2 separate regions of the Homo sapiens genome follow, and region 2 is linked to region 1. A link means that fine-mapping ties the variant in region 1 to the expression of a gene that starts in the linked region. Tissue or cell type: blood mononuclear cells. Region 1 holds a variant in brackets; the other region holds the start of a gene. All regions are shown on one strand. Distances are from middle to middle.

What was found. PIP is the estimated chance that this variant, and not a neighbour inherited with it, causes the effect.
Region 2: it holds the start of FBXL20, and the variant in region 1 is fine-mapped to the expression of FBXL20 in blood mononuclear cells (TOPMed, PIP above 0.99).

What each region holds. Positions count from the first base shown.
Region 1 is chr17:39,306,354-39,308,853 of GRCh38, reverse strand. The region is part of intron 2 of FBXL20 (F-box and leucine rich repeat protein 20); the gene reads left to right. Among named protein-coding and RNA genes, the nearest start is that of MIR548BC, 10 kb to the right of the region's middle. The variant A/TA (reference allele first, on the strand shown) is at 1,558.
Region 2 is chr17:39,400,614-39,403,151 of GRCh38, reverse strand. It overlaps FBXL20 (F-box and leucine rich repeat protein 20), which reads left to right and starts at 1,526. Exons shown (of 15, transcript NM_032875.3): 1 at 1,526-1,791. The coding sequence starts at 1,750. RefSeq lists silencers at 377-541, 507-896, 1,147-1,226, 1,257-1,456, 1,487-1,916 and 1 more.

The DNA of each region.
Region 1 (2,500 bases):
GTGGCTCACTCCTGTAATCCCAGCACTTTGGGAGGCTGAGGCGGGTGGATCAGGAAGCCAGGAGATTGAGACCATCCTGATTAACACAGTGAAACCCCGTCTCTACTGAAAATACAAAAAATTAGCCGGGCGTGGTGGTTCGGCGCCTGTAGTGCCAGCTACTCAGGAGGCTGAGGCAGGAGAATGGCATGAATCTGGGAGGGGGAGCTTGCAGGGAACCAAGATTGTGCCACTGCACTCCAGCCTGGGTGACAGAGCAAGACTCCGTCTCAAAAAAAAAAAAAATTATTGTATTAAAAATTTTTTTGATTTTTTATTTCCCACCATTCTAATAGAAACCTATTTTTTTTTCTTTTTTTAAGAGACAGTCTGGCTCTGTTGCCCAGGCCAAAGCATAGTGGGGTGATCACAGTTCCCTACAGCCACTTACTCCTGAGCTCAAGTGATCCTCTTTCCTTAGCCCCCTGGATAGCTAGGACTACAGGCGTGCACCACAATCCTCAGCTAAATTTTTTCATTTTTACAGAGTCGGGGTCTCACTGTGTTGCCCATACTGGCCTCAAACTCCTGGCCATGGGCCAGGTGTGGTGACACACGCCTGTAATGCCCGCACTTTGGGAGGCCAAGGTGGGTAGATCACCTGAGCCCAGGAGCTCGAGACCAGCCTGGGCAACATGGCAAAACCCTGTCTTTAGGAAAAAAAAAAAAAAAGATCAAACTTTTGGCCGCAAGTGATCCTCCACCTGCCTTGGCCTCCCAGAGTGCTAGGATTATATATAGGTGTGAGCCACCATGCCTGGCCTGGCTTCCCCTAGACTTAGAATACAGTTGAAATCATTTACTATGTCCACAAAGTCTTTTAAATTTTTTTTTTTTTTTTTTTGAAATGATGTCTTGCTCTGTTGCCCAGGTTGGAGTGCAGTGGAGCCATCTCAGCTTACTGCAACCTCTGCCTCCCAAGTTGTAGCGATTCTCCTGCCTCAGCCTCCCAAGTAGCTAGGATTACAGGCACTTGCCACCACACCCAGCTAGTTTTTGTATTATTAGTAGAGACAGAGTTTCACCATGTTGGCCAGGCTAGTCTTGGAATCCTGACCTCAGGTGATCCACCCGCCTCGGCCTCCCAAAGTGCTGGGGATTACAGGTGTGAGCCACTGCGCCCAGTCTTTTTTTTAACATATTCTGGCCCTTGACTAACAGAAGTTTGTTCAATATCCTCATCTATAAGATGGGAATGCTAATAGTACCTATCTTATAGAATTGTTTTAAGGAGTCATTGGATTAGTATGTAAATTTACACACTTAGAATGATACCTGGTACATAATTAAGAACTCAGTATAGGGTTGTGCTGCTGCTGCAGTCCAGCTTCACTGTCTATTCTGATCTTCAAACATTCGTTTGTCATACACCCACTATTTCGTCTACTGGAATGCTCTTCTCCCCAGATCTTGGCAATCTGTTTCCTTTGATCATTTAGATCTTAAATCAAATACCTACTCCTAGGGGAGGCTTTCCTTGACCACCCTTCTATCACATTACTCAGCTTTATGTTTTTT[A/TA]TAGTACTCATCACTAATTGAAATTTTCTCATATATTTTACTTATTTTTTATCTACCTCCAGCCCCTATGCCGTGAGTTACTCAACAGTAGGGACTTAAAACAGTGCCCGTAGATAGCAGGTGGTAAAAATGTTTTTTGAATGAAACTCACCACCCTCCAAATCAGAATGTTTTTCTTTCCTTTCAGGCAAGCTGAAAAATTATAACCACAGCTTCAGATACTGCTCATCATTTTAACTAGATGTTTCCCCCTTTTGTATCCACCTATCCGGTTCTCCTTAGAGAAGGCAGATTCTCTAGACATTATTCACTATAATTGGTCTCTGGGCTTTTATTCAGGGATTTTCCTGTCCCTTGCTGGTGTCTTGCTGAGATTGCAGGATATAGATCAGTTATATTTGCTTTCCGTGTTGCTCCTTGCTTAACCCTCCCAGCTTATTTAATTTATTATCAGTTTTAAACAGTCCCTTACATGGGCCTCTACAGTTGGAGAAAAATCAAAATATCAGAAATCTGTTAGAGGAAGTAAATGTGTAAGAAAACCTAAGGGAAGATTCTTGAAACCAGTTCAGTTGCTATTAATAGTTTTTCTGACATCATGCAAATATTTCAATCACCAAAAGCACTTTCTGCTTCAAAACTGAAAATATTTAAAATAGTGTGATACTGGCATAAAGCAGACATAGACCAATGGAATAGAATAGAGAGCTCAGAAATAAACCTTCACATATATGGTCAAATGATTTTTGTCAAAAATGCCAGGACCATTCAGTGGGGAAAAGTACAGTCTTTTCAATAAATGGTCTTGCAAAGACCTATATCTAAGAACTAAAATTATAAAATCTTTGGAAGAAAACAGGAGAAAAACTTCATGACATTGAGTTTAGCAGTGATTTCTTGGATTTGACACCAAAAGTTCAGGAAATGAAAGAAAAAATAGATA
Region 2 (2,538 bases), 94 kb before region 1:
GAGTTGGGTAATATGTCCTCCAGCTAAAATATACCTGTTCTTAAAGATCTGCCGCACTTGTTGCTCTTGTTAATTTCTTAGACGCATAACAAGTCAGTCGCTAAAACCACTAATTAAAAGGGGTGTGAGGAAGACCAACTCATAACTGCTTTGGAAGCATACAATTAGCAGTGCTGCTGCTCCTGCCAGGTGTGCTGGAATTTATTATACAGTTTCTAATAGTTCACTCTTAGGACATAATTTTGTAGTTTGTTGCTCATAGAAGGGGCAACAAAACTACAAAATCCTGTGTTATTCCTTCGTGGAAATTCGGTCATAAATTCTGAGACCTTGAAGGCCAGAGTTGTTAAAACATAATATAATATGATGACACAGATCAGCTTCTATACAAGGAGCCCGGGAGTCTGATGAAGTGTTTCCATCGGGAAAACGCCCCCGCCTACTCGCTCACACACGCTTGTTTCTCCCGCCAAAGTGACGTCAGGCCGAAGCTCTCACCAAACAGCGCCCTGATTGGCGGACAGGCAGGCGCTGCAGCCCATTGGGCGCCGGCGGCGGCCGAGCAAGGAAAACCAAAGGCTCTTCGGTCTCGCCCGCCCCACCCCCACGGACGCGCGCCCCGACCCCGGCCAAAGGAAGGGTTGCCCGGCTCCAGCCCTGCACCCCCGACCCCCGGCCTCAGGTGCAGCTCCGCAGCCATCCCCGGACCAGGGCGGGCACTTGGCCTGTTGCTCAGCGCAACCACCCTCGCCCTCCCGAGCCATGCACAGGGAGACAAGCGTCCGGCCCCGGCCCCCCAGGCCTCCCTGCAGCACCCCGTAATGTAATGCACTGGGGCGGGGGAGGCGGGGGAGGCGGCGGCGGCGGCAACCGCGGAGGCGCGGCGGCAGCCGCACTGCCCCAATCTAGACACATCCAGAAGAGGAGGAAAATGGCTCCGAGCAGGGACCGCCTGCTGCACTTTGGGTTCAAGGCGACAGTGAGTGACAGGGGAAGGGAGCTGGGTGGCCGGGAAGGATGCGGGTGCCTTACAGGATCCTGGGGAACAAGTGACGAGGGGCGACGGGCGCGGGCAGAGGCTGAGGTTCTGTGCAGGCAGGTGCGTGCCTGTTTGCCCGCGGAGGGAGGAGAGGGGGACACGGGGCAGAAGAGGGGCCCCCGCGCAGAGTGCGGTACTGCTCTACTCTCCCTCGCTGGTCCGCGAGCACGCGCGCACTCGCATCCGCCCCACAGACCCCCTTTTCCACACGCACAGGCACTTCCCTGCCTCGCCTTCTCCCGATGGGCTCGTCTGCCTCGGAGGCGCAGGGGGTCGTGCCGCCGCCGCGCACCGGCTGCTCCCGGGAGCGCCGTCAGGGCCGGCCCCGTGTGGGGGAGGGGTGGTCTCGCGCCGCCGCCGCCGCGCTCCTCCCCTCCCGCCCCTCCCCCTCCCGGGCGCTCCGAGGCCCGGGCGGCTCTGTCCAATGAGCAGCGGCGTTGCTGGCAGGTGGGGAGTGTTTTTGTTTTGGGTTGAAGTTGAGGCTGAGGAGAGAGCCGAGCTAGCGACGAGCAGTCGTTGCGGCCGCCGGCGCCGCGGGAGGTGGTGGAGGCCTAGCCGGAGCCGAGAGGTCTCTTGTTCCCGTCCCACGGTCCCGGCGTCACCCCTCCGGCGCCCAGTCCCCGTCCCGGAACTCCCGGGCCTGTCCTGGGCCCCCGGTCTGTGCACTCCGCTCGCCGCAGCGCCCGGCCCGGGCCGCACCCGCCGGCCCCATGAGGAGGGACGTGAACGGAGTGACCAAGAGCAGGTTTGAGGTGTGAGCTTGGGGGGCTCGGGCGGCGTGAGGAGGGCGGGTCGCGCGCTCTAATCCCAAAACGTCCGCTCCGCACGGAGCCTCCTCCCTGGCAGGCGCCGTCACCCACCCACTGGCGGGGCTGCCAGACTCCGCTCCCCTTTCTTGCGACCCAGAAGCCCAGCGCAGCCCGGTGCCCCCAGTCCCCTCGCCGGTTCGCCCCCCGTCTCTTCCCACCAGCGGGCCCCCGCGGGGGATTAGCTCGGGCGCCCTAATTCCACCCTCCTCCAGGATCGCTCAGCTTTCCATTCTTTACACAACCCTTGGCTTGCCTCCTTCCACCCAGCCATCACGGCTCCGGTCCACCAGAGCCTGCTGCTTTTCTCGCTGCTACCTTCATGACGCGTTTGTTGTCTGTTGAGGGAGGAAATTAGGGGATGGGTACCATTTCTCCGAGTTTGAGACCTTGGTGAAACTAGGGAAGTGGGGACGGTAGTTTGGGATGATAGAGGCTACCACGGGTTTTCGGTGCTGTGTTTGGTTTGGGTATTGTTCTGATACTTCCTCTGCTTTCCCGTTTAGTCTGTACTTCTGTAGCTCATTGTTCCTTGGGAACCCTTGGATGTCTACATGCTTTGAGATTGGGACGAAAGTTCAGCAAATCCATTCCGGTCTGTCTTTCAGGAACTTTTTCTCCTCTAGCGAGGGAGGTTTACTGTCCTGGAATTGAGGAGTGGACGGTCTTGAAAGCGTCTTTAGAGAGTAGTCA